3 linked regions of the Homo sapiens genome follow. The protein of the gene in region 2 interacts with the protein of the main gene of each other region in a pairwise test. Each region holds a gene or a part of one and is shown on either strand. Other genes may lie near its edges.

The links.
Region 1: the proteins of CFAP100 (region 2) and NUPR1 interact in binary tests that used the Homo sapiens proteins (3 or more experiments, as listed by UniProt).
Region 3: the proteins of CFAP100 (region 2) and EPB41 interact in binary tests that used the Homo sapiens proteins (3 or more experiments, as listed by UniProt).

Annotation. Positions count from the first base shown.
Region 1 is NC_000016.10:28,535,279-28,543,577, forward strand, and holds the start of NUPR1 (nuclear protein 1), read right to left. Parts: upstream 3,697-8,299; 5' UTR 3,630-3,696; coding exon 3,518-3,629; intron 2,932-3,517; coding exon of another isoform or gene 2,878-2,931; coding exon 2,741-2,877; 3' UTR 2,728-2,740; intron 2,392-2,727; 3' UTR 1-2,391. UniProt on the Homo sapiens protein: Transcription regulator that converts stress signals into a program of gene expression that empowers cells with resistance to the stress induced by a change in their microenvironment.
Region 2 is NC_000003.12:126,432,161-126,437,557, reverse strand, and holds the end of CFAP100 (cilia- and flagella-associated protein 100), read right to left. Parts: intron 4,763-5,397; exon of another isoform or gene 4,490-4,762; coding exon 4,354-4,489; coding exon of another isoform or gene 3,815-4,353; exon of another isoform or gene 3,383-3,814; coding exon 3,177-3,382; intron 2,000-3,176; coding exon 1,906-1,999; intron 1,268-1,905; coding exon 1,154-1,267; 3' UTR 1,002-1,153; downstream 1-1,001. Other genes in the region: uncharacterized protein LOC124906280, read left to right, coding at 3,815-4,360. UniProt on the Homo sapiens protein: May play a role in ciliary/flagellar motility by regulating the assembly and the activity of axonemal inner dynein arm.
Region 3 is NC_000001.11:28,917,271-28,925,519, reverse strand, and holds part of EPB41 (protein 4.1), read right to left. Parts: intron 1-8,249. UniProt on the Homo sapiens protein: Protein 4.1 is a major structural element of the erythrocyte membrane skeleton. It plays a key role in regulating membrane physical properties of mechanical stability and deformability by stabilizing spectrin-actin interaction. Recruits DLG1 to membranes.

The sequences.
Region 1 (8,299 bases), on a different chromosome or scaffold from region 2:
TTTCCTTCCTCTTTCTTTCCCTCCTTCTCTCTTTCTTTCTCTCTCTTTTTCTTTTTTTGAGATGGAGTTTTGCTCTTGTTGCCCAGGCTGGAGTGCAATGGCGTGATCTTGGCTCACCACAACTTCTGCCTCGAACTCGAACTACTGACCTCAGGTGATCCGCCTGCCTTGGCCTCCCAAAGTGCTGGGATTACAGGTGTGAGCCACTGTGCCGGGGCTCGCTCTTTTCTTTCTTTCTTTCTTTCTTTCTTTCTTTCTTTCTTTCCTTCTTTCTTTCTTTCTTTCCTTCCTTCCTTTCTTTCTTTCTTTCTTTCTTTCTTTCTTTCTTTCTTTCTTTCTTTCTTCTCTTTCTCTCTCTTTCTTCTTTTTCTCTCCTTTCTCTCTTTCTTTTCTTTCTTCCTTCCTTTCTTTTCCTTCCTTCCTTCTTTTTCTCTTTCTTTCTTTCTTTCTTTTTCAATACATGGTTTCACTCTATTGCTCAGGCTGCAGTGCAGTGGCACCATCATGGCTTACTGTAGCCTCCAACTGGGTTCAAGGGATCCTCCAACTTCAGCCTCTGAGCAACTAGGACTACAGGCATGAGCCACCATGCTTTGCTAATTTTTAAATTTTTGTAGAGACAGGGCCTTGGTATGTTGCCTAGGCTGGTCTCGAACTCCTGGCCTCAAGCGATCCTCCCTCCTTGGCCTCCCAAAGGCTGGAAGGCTGAGGTGGGCAGATCATTTGAGGCCAGGAGTTTGAGACCAGCCTGGCCAACATGATGAAACCCCATCTCTACTAAAAATACAAAAATTGGCCAGGCGTGGTGGCTGACGCCTGTAATCCCAGCACTTTGGGAGGCCAAGGTGGGTGGATCATGAGGTCAAGAGATTGAGACCATCCTGGCCAACATGGTGAAACTCTGTTTCTACTAAAAATACAAAAATTAGCCAGGCATGGTGGCAGGTGCCTGTAGTCCCAGCTACTCAGGAGGCTGAAGCAGGAGAATAGCTTGAACCCAGGAGGCGGAGGTTGCAGTGAGCTGCGATCATGCCACTGCACTCCAGCCTGAGCAACAGAGTGAGACTCTGTATCAAAAAAACAAAAAAACAAAAATTAGCCAGGCGTGGTGGTGCTCACCTGTAATCCCAGCTACTCAGGGGGCGTAGGCACGAGAATTGCTTGAACCCGGGAGGCAGAGGTTGCAGTGAGCCAAGATGGTGCCACTGCACTCTAACCTGAGCAACAGAGTGAGACTCTGTCTCAAAAAAAAAATTGTAGAGATGGGGTCTTACTATGATGCTCAGGCTGGTCTCAAACTCCTAGGCTCAAGTAATCCTCCCACTTCGGCCTCCTAAACTGCTGTGATTACAGGCATGAGCCACTGCTCCCAGACTTTAGTTTTTGTTTGTTTGTTTGTTTTGAGACAGAGTCTCCCTCTGTCACCCAGGCTGGAGTGCAATGGCACGATGTCGGCTCACTGCAACCTCTACCTCCTGGGTTCAAGCGATTCTACTGCCTCAGCCTCCTGAGCAGCTGGGATTACAGGCACCTGCCACCATGCTTGGCTAATTTTTGGTATTTTTAGTGGAGATGGGGTTTCACCATGTTGGTCAGGCTGGTCTTGAACTCCTGACTTTGTGATCCACCCACCTCGGCCTCCCAAAGTGCTGGGATTACAGGCGTGAGCCACTGCCCCCGGCCCTGGCTTTTAATATTTTAAATCTCAGTTTTCTCTGACTTTTAGATGGCACTCATAAGTAGCGTTCCCGTCTATGAACAGGACACAATCAACAAAAACAGGTGCTGGGGAGGGCCGTGTTTCATGGGCAGTATCGCAAAAAAGCAGAAGAAATTCCTTTCCACTACGTAGGAGCCCACAGAAATGTATGCACTAAAATATATGCAAGCAAAAGCAAACAAACCAAAAGCTGCATTCACAGCGTAGACCCTGCAAGAGCAGGAACACTCCCTGCCCCAGATACATACACCAAACACAAATACACATCAAAGATGCTCTCTCAGGCTCATGAATGTGCAGGCACAGGCAAGCACACACATGCCCGAACAAAAACACACAAAGAACAAGGATGAACACACACCCAAGCTGTGGCTGCCGTGCGTGTCTATTTATTGTTGCTGCCACCCTGGAGGAGCCCCAGTTTCTTCTGTAGCTTTCTTTTCTGGGGGATCTTCCTGGCTCTGCCCCTCCATTCCCAGCCTCTCACTCCCCATCTTGCACTTTTGCTAGGGTTGGAGGCGCTTTCCTGGTAGCCCCTCAGAGACTCAGTCAGCGGGAATAAGTCCTAGGGGTGGGGGGTGTGGCAAGCCGGCCTGGATCCTGTCCTGGGTCCTCCTTCCTCCGCAGTCCCGTCTCTATTGCTGGGTGTAGTGTCCATGGTCTGGCCTCATCTGGGGGGTGAGGAAAAGCAGGTGGTAAAAGGGACAGAGATCTGGGTTCTAATTCTGCCTCTCCCACTCACTTGATTTGTGACTCCAGGGAAGGACCCACCCTCTCTATCCTCAATTTCTGTCTCTGTAAGTCAAATTTCCCTTCAATTGGAAAGGTTCTGTGTTCCCACTTTGCTCTGGCCACTAGGAAACTCACAATCAAACATATGTCTCGTTTTATTCTGCATCAAGACAACAGTTGCCTGATCCCTCCTCCCCACCCAATCACACACCTTCCGGCCTGTCCTTCATGGCAGAAGCACCACCTTGAGCTCTCTGGGCCCCCCGACTCCTTACCTCCAGCTCTGTCTCAGCGCCGTGCCCCTCGCTTCTTCCTCTCTGAATTCTGCAGCTTGGTCACCAGTTTCCTCTCGTGCCCGCCAGGGCTGGGGCGGTTGGTGTTGGCAGCAGCTTCTCTCTTGGTGCGACCTTTCCGGCCTCCACCTCCTGTAACCAAGGCAGGAGTCAGAGGTGAAGTGGGCATAGGCATGATGAGAGGCCCTGTCAGAGGAGAGGCAGGGGTTCAGGGTTGTGGGGATGGGAAGAGCAGGGAGAAGCCTGCTGCTTCCCCTCTGTGGAATGTGGGACCCCAGATGTGTGTGAGGTCCCAGGCTGAGTAACATAGCACTCCTGGGATAAGGGATTAGACAGGGGTGACGTGAGGGTCCAAGGAACAGGTTGGCTAGAAAAGGGTGAGTGGGCTGGGCAGGGTGGCTCACTCCTGTAATCTCAGCACTTTGGGAGGCCAAGGCAGGAGAATTGCTTGAGCCCAGGAATTTGGGATCAGCCTGGGAAACATAGTGAGACCCCATCTCACCACTGCAGGTGGTGTACACCTGAAGTTCCAGCCACTCAGGAGGCTGAAGCAGGAGGATCACTTGAGCCCAGGAGTTCGAGGCTGCGGTGAGTTGTTTGAGTTGTTGTGATCACACTACTGCACTCCAGCCTGGGTGACAGAGTGACTCTCTCAAAAAAAAAGAAAGAAAGAAACGAAGAGGAAAGGAAAGGAAATGAGAGGAAACAAGAGGGGTGGGTCCTGATTTCGGGAGAGGAGGAAGGACCGTGGAGATGGCTGAGTGGGCCTTACCGAGGTAGGAATGGGCCAGGCTATAGAGGTCAGATTCATCCAGGCTGGAGTCCTCGTCCTCCGGGCCTGGGGGCTGCTGGGGGGCGCTGGTTGCTGGTGGGAAGGTGGCCATCGTGCCTGGCTTGTCTTCCCTGCCTCTCTTCTTCTCCTAACGCTTTGTCTGTCTCTGCTTTCCTGGCCCCGGGCCTCTCCACTCCCTCAGCTTATAAGGCTGTGTCTCCTCCTCAGACCACAGTCTGGCTCCAGCCCATCAGGCCCTGTCTGATGCAATCTGGCCCCTTCCCAAAATCCAGCCCAGTAAACACAGTCATGAGACGGGAAGAGTCGGTCCCTGAGTCCAGCCCAACTCACCTCCTCCCTCCCAGGCTCACCCAGCTGGATATTTTCCATAGAGGAGGTCCCGCTTCTCGGCAGAAAGCAGGGAAGAGGCAGGATCTGGGCTAAAACACTCGTTGGGATCATGGCCTCACCTGATCGAGGGCTTCACCTGGGCCTGGGATGACGGCCACACAGCTAACCCCGGCACCCCAATTCTCGCTGAGATGCAGGACGTGAGGAAGGAGGGGGAAGGGATATCAGCACACTTGTGCCAGGGACAAGTCAGTGGCTTCCACCCAGTCACACTCAACATCTTGCTTGTCTTCTTTTTTTTTTTTGAAATGGAGTCTCTGTCGCCCGGCTGGAGTGCAGTGGTGTGATCTTGGCTCACTGCAACCTGCAACCTCCTCCTCCCAGGTTCAAGCAATTCTCCTGGCTCAGCCTCCCGAATAGCTGGGATTATAGACATCTGCCACCATGCCTGGCTAATTTTTGTATTTTTAGTAGAGATGGGGTTTCACCATGTTGGACAGGCTGATCTTGAACTCCTGACCTCAAGTCATCTGCCTGCCTCGGCCTCCCAAAGTGCTGGGATTACAGGCATGAGCCACACCCTTTTTTTTCTTTTTTCTATGAGAAACATCTTGGAAAACCCCTTAATATCCTGAAACAGGGTCCCCAGTAATGTAATCTCCCTCACCTAGGAGGAGGGTGGCAGAGGGTTGGAGAGTTCAGGGTCTGGAGCCAGTTGCCCTCAGTTCAATCCCCTGACCCACCACTTTCCGTGTGACCTTGGGCGAGTCCCTTCACCTCTCTGTGCCTTGGTTTCCAATTCTGTAAAATAAGGATGATAATAATTGTATCTTCTTCCTAGAGTTGGGGAGAGGATCAAATGAGATAATGTTTGAAAGACACATGCTACAGTGCCCGGTGACAGAGGGAGACCCTGTCTCAAAAACAAATTATAATAAAATAATATGTATTTCAAAATATGGATGTACTGAGGCAGAAGACACAATGAGGCCGAGCGTGGTGGCTTATGCCTGTAGTCCCAGCACTTTGGGAGATCCACAAAGTGGGTGGATCACCTGAGGTCAGGAGTTCAAGACCAGCCTGGCCAACATGGCGAAATCCCATCTCTACTAAAAATACAAAAATTAGCCTGGTGTGGTGGCAAGTGCCTGTAATCCCAGCTACTCAGGAGGCTGAGGCAGGAGAATCGCTTGAACCTGGGAGGGAGAGGTTGTGGTGAGCTGAGATCGAGCCACTGCACTCCAGCCTCAGCAACAGAATGAGACTGTGTCTGAAAACAAAAACAAAAACACAAAAAGCTGAACTTCTGCTTGTGTTTCTCCCTTGCCTGAGCCGGAATTGAATTTAGCCTTTGTTTTCCCAGATTTGGATGATGTATGAGTTCCTTAACACCCAGGAAATGAAAGTGAAGACAGGATACTTGAATGAAAACAGGATTGGGCCAATAATAACAGACCAGGTGATCAGAGAAAGAGGAAAATAATCTTAAATTAAGCAAAGATTGGCCTAGTGCGGTAGCTCATGCCTGTAATTCCAGGGCTCTGGGAGGGTAAGCTGGGAGGATTGCTTGAAGCTGGGAGTTCAAGGCCAGCTTGGGCAATAGAGCAAGACTCCATCCTTTTTTTGTTGGTTTGTTTGTTTTTGTTTTGAGACAGAGTCTCACTCTGTCACCAGGCTGGAGTGCAGTGGTATGATCTCGGCTCACTGCAACCTCCGCCTCCTGGGTTCAAGTGATTCTCCTGCCTCAGCCTCCTGAGTAGCTGGGATTACAGGCTTGTGCCACCACGCCCGGCTAATTTTTATATTTTTAGTAGAGACGGGGTTTCACCACGTTGGCCAGGCTGGTCTCGAACTCCTGACCTCAGGTGATCTGCCCGCCTCGGCCTCCCAAAGTGCTGGGATTACAGGCGTGAGCCACCTGGCCAGTATCTTTTTTATTTGTTTGCTTTACCATTATTTGTCCCCACTGGCATGCAACCGTTGGTTTAGTTTAGTTAATGGTTAAAGGAGTAGGCTCTGGAACAGGGCTTCTCAGGTCTAAAGCTTGGTTCTGCCCCCTAGTTAGCTGTGTGCTCTTAGACAAGCTTAGTCTGCATGTTTGTTTACTCGTCTATACAGTGGGATTAATGGCACCTAGGCTGGATAAGGTGAGGCACACCTGCAATCCCACTGTTTTGAAAGGCTGAGGTGGAAGGATCACTTGAGGTCAGGAGTTTGAGGCTGCGGTGAGCTATGATCGTGCCACTGCACTCGAAAAAGAAAAAGAAAAGAAGGTTGGGGCCGGGCACGGTAGCTCACACCTGTAATCCCAGCACTTTGGGAGGCCGAGGTGGGTGGATCACGAGATCAGGAGTTCGAGACCAGCCTAGCTAAAATGGTGAAACCCCGTCTCTACTAAAAATACAAAAATTACCTAGGCGTGGTGGTGTGTGCCTGTAATCCCAGCTACTCAGCAGGCTGAGGCAGTAGAATCGCTTGAACCCAGGAGGCAGAGGTTGCGGTGAGCTAAGATCGCGCCACTGCACTCCAGCCTGGACGACAGAGTGAGACCCGGTCTCAAAAAAAAAAAAAAATGCTTAGCGCAGTGCCTAGAAGATAATCAGTGTGCAATAAATGCTTGCTATTTTAATTATCATTATTCTCGGGGCAGGAATCTTGCCTGCCATATTGTATCCTCAATGCCTGGCACTCAGTCTGAGCTCAGTAAATGTCTAGTTGAATACATGAGGCTCTGCTAAGATCAGTGTTGCTTGCTCAGCTTCCACCTGCTCTGCAATGCAGGAACTGAGAGGCGAATTGTAGCCTCACAGGGGACCACAGAAACACTGTGATTGTCCCAGATGGAGCCAGGGAAGGAGGTCTCCCTGGCCTTGATCTTACAGGTGCTGGAAGAAAGAAGCCTATGAGAGAAGGAGGAAGGGCATGGTGGCTCACGCCTGTAATCCCAGCACTTTGGGAGGCCGACGAGGTTGGGTGGGTCACCTGAGGTCAGGAGTTGGAGACCAGCCTGGCCAACATGGTGAAACCCCGTCTCTACTAAAAATACAAAAATTAGCCGGGTGTGGTGGCGGGCACCTGTAGTCCCAGCTGCTGGGGAGGCTGAGGCTGGAGAATGGCATGAACCCGGAAGGCGGAGCTTGCAGTGAGCCCAGATCGCGCCACTGCACTCCAGCCTGGGCGACAGAGCGAGACTCCATCTCAAAAAACAAAACAAAACAAAAAAAAGGGCCAGGCGCGGTAGTTCACGCCTGTAATCCCAGCACTTTGGGAGGCCGAGGCGGGTGGATCACCAGGTCAGGAGTTCAAGACCAGCTTGGCCAACATGGTGAAACTCCGTCTTTACTAAAAATACAAAAATTAGCTGGGCGTGGAGGCATGCACCTGTAATTCAAGATACTCGGGAGGCTGAGGCGGAAGAATCTCTTGAACCCAGGAGGCAGAGGTTGCAGTGAGCCGAGATCACGCCATTGTACTCCAGCCTGCTGGAACCCCTCTAGCATGGATCTGCAGGGCTCTAGACGTGGCTCCATCTAGACGTAGAGGTGTGCTTTTTGTTACAGGAACAGCAGATTTGTATGCCTGCTGCCCTGTCACAGCCCTATTACACTGGACAGCAGGGATGCAGTAGAGAGAGTTTCATGATCACAGGGCACTGTGCAAGGGGATAGGAGGAGACCTGCGAATGCATCTCCCCAGGGAATTCTGGGATGGGGCTTTTAAGGGGATTATGGAGGGTGAGAGGCTAGAAAATTGGGGTCATTGGTCAGAGCAAGGGAAATGAAATCATCATGATGTGAAAAAGACATTTTTGGGGAGTTAGCTCCTGGTGGGGTCCTTCAGGCTGGCGGAGTCAGTCGCTTCACCGGCACGCAGGACCTGAAGGAATTTCTCAAAAGTAACATTTAATGTTTCATAACGTTCAAGTTGCTATCTCTAGTGCAGTTAAGGGGAACTATGATCTTGTAACCAGGTCTACGTGATTCTAGAACAGCAGGCACCAGACAACTAAGAGGAAGCAGATCAGGGGGCAGCTGACCTCATGATCAGCGCTGGGTGTGCTGCAAGCCTGGCTTGTTTCCATTTCTCCTCTCTGTTCTCTGATTAATTGCATGAGGTTTACAGGGATGGTTTCATTTTCCCATCCTCAAGCCTCCAGGTGCATGTAAAATCTGCCACGAGGAAGTTTATTTTCTTCCTGCTTAGAGTTACACCTTCGTGACGTTGCTAGGCACACCTATGACAACCCAGCGCCATCAGCTTGGAGTAAACGCAGAGGGCTGGGAGCTCCCAGGAGGGCACCTAACCTCTCTGGAGATAGGGAGATGAAGGCACACTTCCTGGAGGAGGTGAAGCTTGTTTTCTAATTCTTTTATTTTTAATTAATTAATTAATTTAATTTTAATTTTCTTTTCTTTTTTCTTTTTTTCTCTT
Region 2 (5,397 bases):
ACGTCAGTGTATATTTTTACCGAGTGAGGTCTGTCTTGTAAAAGGAGACAAGGTGATCACCTTGCCCATGTTTATTTGTAAGTCTGTCAACTTAGCAATGACACAGGGTCACTCCTAAATGACTTTTTTTTTTTTTTTTGCCTTGTGCCTTTTGAAGTATGTGTTCATTCAGAGGCTGTTTTGATTCTCAGACTGAATCATTCAAACTCTGCCCTGTGTTTGTTTCTTGAATTTGGGGGTGACATCAAGTTTGAGTGAGTCCTCCCTCTGTCTTGTCTCACTCTGAGGTGCTGTCCCCAGGTGCTGTTCCACGTGGAAGAATCCACACCTCGTCGACAAATGGGTCTTCTCCACAGACCGGCGCTCTGTCACCAACTAAAGGCGAGGGGAGAACTTGCCCACCTGGCAGGCTCTTTAGCCCCAAGGTGGCCCGGAGTCCTCCTCCCTCCATGGGAGGCTTTTGGCCACCATGGCGGGTGGAGCCGCACCCACCCCATCTCCATGGGGAGGAGAGTCTTCCCCCAGGAATGCCCTCTCGGCCTCTATTTTTCTCCCATGTGCCTCCCTGGGAACGTCACCGTGAAGTGACTGGGACTGGCACCCAGTGTTCTGGGCACCAAGGTTCCCTGCCGGTGATGGGCCTAACTCCTAGTGCAAATGAATGAAAGTTTTCTTATAGTCATGCACCGAAGGTTTTTCACCTTGGCTTAATTCAAGTAGCTACATATATGGCATTCAGCCCATTGTTTCTCCTTTAGTTGGTAGTGCTGGCCCTGCCATATACCTAGCTGCCTGCTTGTATTTCTTTGGTCTTTGCACAGAGGCTGATCTCACACTACACTCAGCGTGGAATTAGCTTTTGTCTCGCAGAGCAGCTGTTTTAGATGGGAACCAAGGTGTCATGCTCTTGCCCTCAAGCATCTGCTTAGGGTTAAATGATGAACCGGCGGGGTGCTGAGATTTGGCAATGGTGGCTGCATCCTTAAGCAGGCCTTCAAGACTCCAGAGAGACATGAATTTATTCAGGTGAGGAAGGGAGCACACAGGAGACAGAGAGGACTCAGTTGGGCCACTCGAGACCCAGCCCAGTCTCTGCTTCCTCTGCCAACATCTTTGCTAAGCCTTCAGCCAGAACAGCTATGGTCTGCGAAGATTAAGTAAAGAAAAATAGCAGCTCCTCCTCCTCCTTGTCCATCAGTGTGTGCTCAGACTGTTGTTTGATCCTGTGGGCTGGGGGTCGTGAGCGGCATACCAGTGTCCTGCCTCTCTGCAGGGGAAACAAGCCCAGTGAGCCTTGCTGCCTAGTGAGCCGTATGCCCATATACCCCTGCCCCTGGTGCAGGGAGAGGCCCAGCAGCTCCAGTCACCTCCAGGCCACTCTGGTCAGCCCTGCAGGCTGAGGGCTGGAGTTAACTCTGAAATAACTGGGGGTGTGAGTCTGCCTGGCATTTATCAAGCCTGGTCTCTGGAGCACCACCTATTAGATGTGGGGGCAGAGGGACCTGCTTCCTGTTGCCAGGGTCAGAAGGCAGGAAGGGTGGGGGCCTTGGGACACAGCAGTAGGGGGACCCCAGTGACGGGCAGTGAGCAGGGCTTGGGGTCTGGCCGGAGTGTGGGTAGGGTGGTGGGACCCTGCTCCTGAGCAGAGTGTACCTGGCTGGGGTGGGTGGGCATGGCTGAACCAGGCTCAGCCTGGCATGGGCCATGGGCTGGCAGCCTGGGGAAGAGCCCCCTGCAGGAAGCAGGTCCTGGGAGAGGCCTTGCTCCGAAGGCAGCCTGTCTCCCTCAGAGCCTCATTGAATGCCTTCAGAGTGGTAGCATCAGGGGCTTGGGCTGCAGGACCTCAGCTGCCATGCTGTCTTGGGACCCCCTCCAGCAGAGACCCCCCAAGGCGACCCTGCCTACCTTCTTCTTGATCTCAGCCTGGGCGCGCGCCCGGGCCCGCTGCAGATGCTCCTCCTGTAGGATCTTTTGCATCTGGAGCTTCTCTTCTCGAAGTCTGGGTGGCAAGAAATGACATTGAAAACTGGGGGGACCTGGAAGGTGTTGTGTAATCTCCACACGGAGTCCCCAGGCCAGGCCGTGTCCTCCCTCAAGAAAACTCCCAGCTCCTCTTCACCTCTTTTGCCAGGTCAAGTTCTCAATACCTATCCACAGCCAAAGCACCGCTGCTTTTGGCCAAGGTGGCCTAGGCCCAGAGGAGGACAACCAGGGCCCTGCTGCTCCGAGGCCCTGGCTCTGGCCTCCTGCAAGGGCTGAATCTAAGGTTCATCCAGCAGACCCCTCCCAGAGGCACATTTCTCTGAATCTACACCCATGGCCTGATCTGTGCACCTGTGGCCTCCCTTGCCACCATGAAGGCCAGCATCCCCCTGGGGCGAGAGTCCTGTCTCCTTCCTATATATACTCTCAGTCATCAAAGCCTGGTCTAGTGCCCACTCTGAGCAGGGTACCAGGGACCCAGAGGAGAAGCCCCTGTGCTTGGGGGGACGGATGGATGTTTGCAGATTGCGCTGTCTCAGAGCCCTGCACGGGGTGGATGAACCGGGCTGCCCACAGGCCAGGGAAGCCACAACCCCCATCTACCTTGGGTTCAGGCTGGTGTCCCGACAGATAGCAAGCTGCTGCCCATCTGCCCCCCTCCACTCCCCTCTGAGCTGAAACTCCCAAGGCTCTCTGAGCCTCTGCACTTTGTCTTCCGCTCCAGCAACACTGCTGTAGCCATGCCTTCTCTCCTGGGTGCTGGCAGCTGCCCTTGCCCTCAGCCTCCAGCCCCTCCAGTCCAGCCCCAGAGGGAAGAATCTAACCACACCCTACCTGGCCGTGTTTGCCCCACTGCTTAAAGCCCTCCACTGCTGTTCCATGTATTTGAGGCTGACCGTGCTAGCCACACTCTAACTAAGCTCCAGCTCTTCTATCTTCTAGACCCTGTCCCTCCCTGAGCCTCCTGGCCACATCGAGTCACTGTCGTTTGCTCTAGGAAGCTTTCCCTAACCACCCCCCACTTGACTGTGATGCCCCTCTAGATCCCCCCAAGACATGGGCTTTTGTCTCTCATAGCACAGAGCAGGAGGGGCCTGTCTCCTGGGAGTGCTTTGAGGGTGGGGCCTGTATGTGCCCTCTGCCCTCAGGGCCAGCCAGGACACAGCAGCTGGCAGGGAGAGCCTAGAGCTCACCTGATGCGCCGCTCCTTCTCCTTTGCCCTCTCGGCCTGCTCGATCTTGACCTGGGGCACGTGCTCCAGGTTCTCTAGCAGCTCATCCAGCTGGTGCTCAATGATGGTCAGCATCTGCACGGTGCCCAGGTTGGCCTCCTGCTGGGTGCCGGTGCAGTGCCGGTACACATCCAGCACCTTGCAGTTCAGGCTCTCTAGCAGCTTATCCTGTGGAGGAGGTGGCTTCCAGCAGGGTGCTGGCAGGCGGAAACCCACCCCCATGCCAGTGCCTTCAGCGGTGGCCTGCTGACCTCCCAGGGTGGGGGCCACCGCTTGGCACACAGTGGGAGCTCTGAGAACATGGGCTAAAACAGAACTTGGGGAACTGGCTTTTCTTGGCCAGAGCAGCCTATCCCCCGGGCCCCCTGGAGTCAGCCAGATCCCTGGTTCCAGCCCCTCTCCCAGCTGCCTCTGGTGAGCCAACGGGGCCCAGTCCCCTCCTCCAGGGAACCCTGCACCCTGGGCACCCCACAGGGCTATGTCTTCTCTGAGACTGTTCTGACACTTAGAAAACAGATAACAGCCCCTCCATGTGGGCTATATGAGGAGAGAGGAGCAGCAGGCAGGCAGCTCAGCCCAGCCTGGGCACAGCCAGTGCCCATGGATTCTGGCTGTATCGGGAGCGCTGTCTTGCTCATGGCTGCATCCCACACCCTTGGCCCTGTGCCTGGCACACAGCAGGCACTTGACAGTAGGAAGCCATCCCATGCCCGGGGTGGCCCCAGGCTGTCAGGTTGGGAGCGGGCTGAGCCTTTGTCTGGGTCCTGGCTTCTGCTGCTCAGAACACCACTGGCTTTCTCTTCTCTCCCAATTCTCTCACCCTCTCAGCCTGGCTTGAGGACACGCCTCTTCCCCCCCTTCAGGATCACCTTGCCAGACACAATATATGTGTTTAAGAAGCAGACACATTTGTTGAATAAAAGAATGAAGCAATGGATGAGGCGTGGGGGCAACCAAGCTGGCTGGCACAGGCATCAATACATGTGGTGGCTCCTGGAGGGAGGCAGGGCAAGGGCAGCTGCAGGGCACTCACCCGGGCCTTGTCCTCCATCTTCCCAAGGGCTGTCAGGGCTCCTCCAGTGGGTGCCCAAGGGTCCCTCCTTACCCTGGGCCTCTGGCCACCTTGATCCCCAGCCTACCTGCTGATCGCCCTTGTACTCGCCGAAGTGGAAGACTCGGGCTTTGAGCTCCAGCTCAGCTGCTGTGTCCTCCTCCTTGGTGATGGACATCATCATTGTGGTGACCCACTGCTTCAGCTGGTTGACCTCCCTGTCCCTGGAAGAGGGGAAAACCGGCAGGGCATCAGTCACTCAGCACAGCCCTGGGCACATCGCTTCTCTGAGCCTGTCTGTACAGTGCTTTGCCCCTACCAGCTGTCCTGAGGGCTGAAGGATCATGGGTGCCAAGTCTCTGCATGCCCAGGGGGTCAGAAATGCTGGTAGAATGTAGGGGAAAATGTAAAATATTTAACAATCAACATTAAAGAAAATAAACAGCTTCATTGAGGCATAATTCACAGACAATAAAATTAGCATAACCATCATAAAATATACAAGTCAGTAATTTTTTATATATTCAAGGAGTTTACACAACCATGACCATAATCTAATTTTAGAACATTTTCATCACCCTGTGCCCATTAACAGTCACTCCTCATTGTCCCCTCTATCCTTTGGTCTTAAGCCACCATGAATCTACTTTGTGTCTACCCTGAACACTTCATAAAAATGGAGTCACACAACATGTTTTCTTTTGTGACTCGCTGCTTTCACCCAGCATATTTTCAAGGTCCCTCCATGTTGCAGCATGTGTCAGCACTTCATTTCTTTTTATAGCTGAGTAATCTTCCATTGCATACGTAGGCCACACTTTGTTGATCCATTCATCCATTGATGGGCATTTGGGTTGTTTCCACCTTTTGGCTCTTGGGAATATTGCTGCTATGAACATTCATGTGCAGGTTTTTGTGAGGACATGTTTTCAATTCTCACGAATATATATCTAGGAGCAGAATTTCAACATTCACCTTTCTTTTTTCCTTTTTTTTTTTTTTTTTTTTTTGAGACGGAGTCTTGCTCAGTCGCCCAGGCTGGGTGGAGTGCAGTGTCACAATCTCGGCTCACTGCAAGCTCCGCCTCCCGGGTTCACACCATTCTCCTGCCTCAGCCTCCTGAGTAGCTGGA
Region 3 (8,249 bases), on a different chromosome or scaffold from region 2:
CTGTCTCCCATTCTACTTTCCCTGATCCTCACTAAAATCTGATGTCTTATGTTCTATCCCTGATTTATACATTTATTATTTATCCCCTACCACTAAAATGTAAGCTCCAGGCTGGGTGTGGTGGCTCATGACTATAATCCCAACACTTTAGGAGGCCAAGGCAAGAGACTACTTGAGCCCAGGAGTTCAAGACCAAAATGGGCAACATATGGAGACCCCATCCCTACAAAAAATTTCATTTAAAAATTAGCCAGAATGGCCAGGCGCGGTGGCTCACGCCTGTAATCCCAGCATTTTGAGAGGCCGAGGTGGGCGGATCACAAGGTCAGGAGTTCGGGACCAGCCTGGCCAATATGGTGAAACCCTGCCTCTACTAAAAATAAAAAATTAGCCGGGCATGGTGGTGGGTGCTTGTAGTCCCAGCTACTCAGGAGGCTGAGGCGGGGGAAAAGCTTGAACCTGGGAGACGGAGGTTGCAGTGAGCCGAGATCGCGCTACTGCACTCCAGCCTGGGTGACAGAGCGAGACTCCATCTCAAAAAAAAAAAAAAAAAAAGTTAGCCAGGCATAGTGGTGTGTGCCTGTAGTCTCAGCTCCTCAGGAGGCTGAGGTGGGAGGACTGCTTGAGCCCAGGAGGTTGAGGCTGCAGTGAGCTGTGACCACACCACTGCACTCCAGCCTGGGTGACAGTGCAAGACCCTGTCCCAGAAAAAGAAATAAGCTGCACAAGAACAGATACCTCTATTTTATTCACTGCTATGTCCCAATGTACTTATGATAGTGCCTTGTAAATAGTGAACAATCAATAAGTATTTATTACATGAATAAGTGGTAGATGTTTTAGTTATCTATTACTTTACAATAAATTACCCTCCAAAACATGGTGGCTTAAAACAGCAAACATTTATTATTGCACAGTTTCTGTGGATGAAGAATCCAGGCATGACTTAGCTAGGTGACTCTGGCTTGGGGTCTTTTTTATTTTTTTTTTGAGATGTAGTCTCGCTCTGTCACCCAGAGCTGGAGTGCAGTGGCACGATCTCAGCTCACTACAACCGCCACCTCTCAGGATCAAGCGATTATCCTGCCTCAACCTCCCAAGTAGCTGGGACTACAGGTGCACACCACCACACCCAGGTAATTCTTCTATTTTTAGTAGAGACGGGGTTTCGCCATGTTGGCAAGGCAGGTCTCGAGTTCCTGACCTCAGGTGATCCACCCACCTTGGCCTCCCAAAGTGTTGGGATTACAGGCATGAGCCACGCACCCGGCCAGGGGCTTTCATGAAGTTGTAGTAAAGCTGTCTACTGCATTTGCATTCACCTCTAGGCTCAACTCTGCCTGGAGAATCTGCTTCCAAGATCACTCACACCGAAGATCTGCATCCAAGTTTACTGACAGACCTCGTTTTTAACCACATGGACATCACTACAGACTGCCTGAGTGTTCTCAGGATATGGTAGCTAGTGGTCCCAGGGAGAGGGAGAAAGCCAGAATCCCAAGAGAGAAGCCACAGTATTTTATAACCTAATCTTAGAAGTGACATCCCATCACTTTTGCTGTATTCTATTCAATAGCCCCCACTCAAGGGGAGGAAATTACACTAAGGGTATGCATACCAGGAGGGAGGGATAATTGGGGGCCATAATAAAGGCTGCCTACCACAGTACGCATGATAAAAATTTAAAAACATAAAACAAAAAAACTTGCCCTTTAGTTATATATTCTTTGGTATATTTATTTAAATATGATTCTATGATCATTATGCAATTATTCATCCCAATGCTAGTCTTTTCCATCTTACAAAATACCAAAGAGAATACATTAAATATTGAACATATCTTGTTAACCAGTGTCCATTAATGGTCATATTAGAGATAATACAACTAGCAAGGATAAGTCAACAAAAATAGCATCTGGAGAAAAAAAGACTTACTGGGTAAATCTTGCTAAGTAGATGACACTGACCTTTACTATTTAATCATTATAGGCATCATCTTTAGGAGACGGAATGGCACTTAATAAAAGATCAGCTTTTTATATTACAATTAAAGAAATAATAAAAATTCAAAGGTTACTTAGTAAGCTAGAGGATATATCAATCTACCGTTAAGAAATAAAAAGGTTGCCAAGCGCAGTGGCTCACACCTCTAATCCCAGCACTTTGGGAGGCCGAGGCGGGTAGATTACCTGAGGTCAGGAGTTCGAGACCAGCCTGACCAACATAGTGAAACCCTGTCTCTACTAAAATACAAAAATTAGCCAGGTGTGGTGGCACACGCCTGTAATCCCAGCTACTTGGGAGGCTGAGGCAGGAGAATCGCTTGAATCCGGGAGCTGAGATCCCATCACTGCACTCCAGCCTGGGTGACAGAGTGAGACTCCATCTCAAAAAAAAAAAAAAAAAAAGAAAAGAAAAGAAAGGAAAGAAGGAAGAAAAAGGTTTAAGGCTAATTACACATACCTGATTATCAGAATCAAACAGTGCATCACGGCTGAGTGTGTTGGCTCACACCTATAATCCCAACACTTTGGGAGGCCAAGTCAGGAGGATCTCTTGAGACCAGGCTGGGCAATATCATAAGATCATCTCAGCCTGGGCACAATGGCTCACACCTGTAATTCCAGCACTTTGGGAGGCCGAGGCAGGCGGATCATGAGGTCAGGAGTTTGAGACCAGCCTGGCCAATATGGTGAAACCCCGACTCTACTAAAAAATACAAAAATTAGCCGGGCATGGTAGCACACACCTATAGTCCCAGGTACTTGGGAGGCTGAGGCAGAAGAATTGCTTGAACCCGGGAGGCAGAGGTTGCAGTGAGCCGAGATCGCGCCACTGCACTACAGCCTGAGCAACAGAGTGAGACTCAATCTCGAAAAAAAAAAAAAAAAAATCCTGTCTCTAAGAAAAAATTTTAAAACTGGCGGGGCACGGTGGCATGCACCTGTAGTCCCAGCTACTCAGGAGGCTCAGGTGGGAGGACTGCTTGTGCCCGGGAGTTCAAGGTTAGAGTAAGCCATGATTGCCCCACTGCACTCCAGCCTGGGCAACAGAATGAGACAGAGGATAAAAAGATAACAATAAATCTTCAGAGAAGAAGATATCTTTAAAACCTCTTTCCTCTACCAGGCTTCTTATTCTTGGTCTCCTTTCCCTTAAGTAGCTCTCCTTTACTTTATTTACTTGGCAACAACTATTTCCAACCTAACACAATTATCTCAAGACTATCTAAATATAAAATATAATTTTATAGGCCAGGTGCGGTGGTTCATGCCTGTGATCTGAGCACTTTGGGAGGCCAAGGCGGGCGGACCAGGAGGTCAGGAGTTCGAAACCAGTCTAACCAACACGGTGAAACCCCGTGTCTACTAAAAATACAAAAATTAGCCAGGCGTGGTGGCACGTGCCTGTAATGCCAGCTACTTGGGAGGCTGAGGCAGGAGAATCGCTTCAACCTGGGAGGCAGAGGTTGCAGTGAGCCAAGATCATGCCATTGCACTCCAGCCTGGGTGACAGAGAGAGACTCCGTCTCAAAAAAAAAAAACAAAAAAAAAGTGTATATATATATATATATATATATAAAATTTCATAAATAAAATACTATTTACATTTTCACTGGAAAAACCACAAAGTATACTATGTGGATTTTCTTGCCTCCAAAAGCAATTGTGTTATTTCAAGTGTTGAGGATGCCAGAAAGCTTGAAGATTTAAAAATAACCTCACAAAGAGCTCATTTTCAACACCAGATGGAAAGAAATTACTCTAAAGACACATGTGTAGGAAGACAAATATACAATATCATATGATACCATGCAAAAGGTTTATATAATTACGTAATACCATCAAGACTGGAAAGACTGCAGGTAGTAAGCTGGCAACAGTGTCGATCCTCTGAATCATTAAAAAAAAGAGAAAAGGGCAAGAAACAGCAAGTGGGTGGTAGCAAAAAAAATTTTTTAAAGCCTTTACTTTAAGCTGCCTTCCATGTGTCCCTATCGCATGCTGAAATGGTAGGCAGGTAAAATTTGAGGGCTTAAATCCTTGGCACTCCTGAGAGTCCTGCCTGTGTCCATATGGCCAAAAACTGGGGAGGGAAGGGGGAATGGGATGAATTTCAACAATCTGTATGAAATGTATTATTAAGGTGAAACACTCTTCACTTGAATACATATAGAACTTCTAATTGGTAAATTAAAATATGTGCTTGGCATCTAAGTTAAAGCAGCATTTCTTTATAAGATAGGTTTAAAGATATGCCATTAAGATCCCATTGTGTTAAAATGATTTTAATAGGATTACTTAAGAGTATATGTAAGTACTAATAGCTGTATATCAATCACAACTAAACCTTGGCCTAATACTATGTATTCATAAATCACCAAAAATATACATTTCTATTACACGTATGGGTTACAGGCTTAAATTTAACCAATTCAAAACAACTCTATTAGCTAGATGTGATGGCACACACCTGTAGTCCCAGCTATTTAGGTGGCTGAGACAGGAGGATCACTTGAGCCCAGGGGTTCAACACCAACCTCAGCAACATAGAGAGACTCCCCATATAAATTTTTAAAAATTAAAATAGGCTGGGCGCCATGGCTCACACCTGTAATCCCAGCACTTTGGGAGGCCAAGGCAGGCAGATTTCTTGAGCCTAGGAGTTCAAGACCAGCCTGGTCAAGATGGCAAAACCCAGTCTCTAAAAATATAAAAAATCAGCCAGGTGTGGAGCCTGTAGCTCCAGCTACTCAGGAGGCTGAGGTGGGAAGATCACCTGAGCCTGGGAAGTTGAGGCTGTAATGAGCCATGATCGCACCACTGCACTCCAGCCTGGGTGACAGGAGTAAGACCCTGTCTCAAAAAATAAATAAATAAATAAATAAAAATAAAATAATCCTGTGCTCTAATATAGTTAAATCACGGGGAGTTTCTCACTTGAAACTTTTCTATCATAACTTTTTTATGATTTAATGCAGATATAACAAATATAATGCATGGGCAAAAGTTTTCTGAGTGAATATTAATGTAGAAAGTACCAAAACCTCAGTCTATGTTGTGTCCGGTGCTATGATTCAAACATATAGAGGGCCTACCAAAAGCTGATCTGCATTAGGGTGACTTTTGTGGAGGATGGAATCAGGTTGCATCTATAAATAACAATTAACTACAAGAGTACAGATTATATCCAATCTTATTTGATTATTTCCACCTATTTCCAAAAAAAGATGGAGGTGTTCCTGTCTCTATTAATAGATATTAGATAACAGAACAGAATTGTAGATATACATTGAATATAGAATTAGGTAATAGAAAATAATCTTAATAGAGCATCTATTGCTTCTTCCAATCTAATCAATATAAACTCACAGTCATATTTCTTATCCATTCCATCAGACAGATAATCTTGCCCCTTCCTACCCACCCTGCCAAAATTTCTTTAACCTTACCCAAGCTCTATTCCACATAGCTTAGAAACAATTTTAATCTCCACAAGCAGAGATCACCCTGAGAGTTGAGGGCCTAGATTAATTGGGTAGAACTGACTCAAAGAGTCATCAGCTACGGAAGAGGGAGAGCAGCAATTCAATAAACAATCACAGTTTAATCCACATAGATTTAACTTGGAGATAAGAGATAACTTGCAAAAAAGAGAACTGCTCTTAATTGCAATAATAAAATAATAAAAATAATAAAACAATAAATAATTTAAAAGCATGACGCCAGAATGTCTCTGGAATTTCTATATAGAAAGGACTTTTGGGCTGGATGCTGTGGCTCATGCCTGTAATCTCAGCACTCTCAGAGGCCAAGGCAGATGGATCACTTGAGATCAGGAGTTCAAGACCAGCCTGGCCAACATGGTGAAACCCCGTTTCTACCAAAGAATACAAAAATTAGCCGTGCATGCCTGTAGTCCCAGCTACTCAGGAGGCTGAGGCGGAAGAATCGCTTGAACCCGGGAGGCAGAGGTTGCAGTGAGCCGAGATCATGCCACTGCATTCCAGCCTAGGCAACAGAGCAAGACCCTGCCTCAAAAAAAAAAAAGAAAGAAAGGACTTTTAAGGATAGCAATTTGACTGGAAGGAGAGACAGAATATTTGGATATCAAGCTCCCAGTTCCTACCCAGATTGCATGTTTACTTAGGGTGACTTAGTGGGAAGCTGACGAAGCTAGCGGGTAGGGGATATTAAAGTCTCTTCAAGCTACTCCTTGAATTATACTGGCTGCTGTTCTCCAAAGTTCAAAGAGCTAGCCAATTTATTTTCAAATATTTTAAGTGGATACAATTCAATTTAAATAAAAAATCAGCAAAATAAGTATAAACAGACTTTCATCATAATCGGATTTTCCCAAAACCAATATTTGAAGCAAAGTGTCAGTAAGGTGGGTAGTTCTAAATGAGATCAGCACTCAATATAAAATATCAAAGTTCTCCTTTCTAACACCTCCAAGTTCTGAATACTCCTCACTGCTACAGCATTCTTCTTTATCTTTCTATGTATTCATTAAATAGCAGCAGAGTAAATCAAAATACTAATCTAACCCAGTGTGCACTCCAGAGTAAGTTATATTGCATTTGACTAAACACACCATGAACCCACTCTTAAAAAGGACGCACAGTAAAAGCCACCAGTGACATACCAAGAAACTTAAATGAACAACAAAAAATAACATACATTTGGCATCTGCCTCTCCTCTCCTCTAACTAAATGCTATGATAAATGCAATCAAGCAATTACTTTTTCTTTTTTCTCTTTGAGACAGAATTTCACTCTGTTGCCCAGGCTGGAATGCAGTGGTCTCAAACTCAAAGGCTCAAGTGATCCGTGGGCCTCGGCCTCCCAAAGTGCTGGGATTACAAGCATAAACCACTGCACCTAGCTAGCAATTACTTTTCAATAATTTTGGATCCTTCACATACATAAGGCCCATAACTGATTAATTCAGAGGCCATCTTTGGGGGCTTTATTTAGAGGAAAAAAACAAAGTTATTCATAAGAAAAGTTATTGGAATTATTGTTGTTTAGCTCACAAAATAAAGTGATTCCATGTTCAAGTAATTAAAGAAAAAATTCAAATATAGAGGTAGCAATGAATCCACATCTGAATATGCATTTAACCAAACACAAACTTGATGAAACTCAGAAAAATACAGGCCATTGGCTGGGTGTGGTGGTTCATGCCTGTAATCCCAGCACTTTGGGAGGCGGACGTGGGCAGATCACGAGGTCAAGAGATTGGAGACCATCCTGGCCAACATGGTGAAACCTCGTCTCTACTAAAAATACAAAAATTTAGCTGGGTGTGGTGGTGTGTGCCTGTAGTCCCAGCTACTCAGGAGGCTGAGACAGAAAAGACAAGAAAAACAAAAATACACTGGCAACACTTATGCTGTCCTGCCTCTTAGATAACAAGGAAACAGACTGTGGTCTACATCTATGCTCCTCTTGATTTCAGAACCAAACTCAGCCTCTCATGGCCACTGATATTCTAAAGTTATGAAATCAGATTAGCAATATGAAACTGGATTACTACATTAAAAAAAAGTAAGCAAACTCTATCATTCACACCAACAATTACACACCAGGCATGGTGGCTCATGTCTGTAATACAGACTAAGCTGGGCACAGTGACTCATGTCTGTAATCCCAGCACTTTTGGAAGCAGAGGTGAGACGATCATTTGAGCTCAGGAGTTTGAGACCAGCAGTTTGAGACCAGCCTGGGAAACAATAGCAGGACCCCGTGTTTTAAAAACGAAAAAAAAAAGCTGGGCATGGTGGTGCACGTCTGTAGTCCCAGCTGCTCAGGAGGCTCAGGTGGGAGAATCACTTGAACCCAGGAGTTCAAGGCGGCAGTGAGCCAGGATCATGCCACTGCCCTCCAGCTTGGGCAACAAGGTAAGATCCCTGTCTCTAAAAACATATGTATACAGGGCCAGGCACGGTGGCTCATGCCTGTAATCCCAGCACTTTGGAAGGCCGAGGCGGGTGGATCACGAGGTCAAGAAATCGAGACCATACTGACCAACATGGTGAAACCCCAACTCTACTAAAAATACAAAAGTTAGGTGGGCATGATGGCAAGCGCCTGTAATCCCAGCTACTTGGGAGCCTGAGCCAGGAGAATTGCTTAAATCCAGGAGGTGGAGGTTGCAGTGAGCTGAGATCATGCCACTGCACTCCAGCCTGTGTGACAGAGTAAGACTCCATCTCAAAATAAATAAATAAATACACACACACA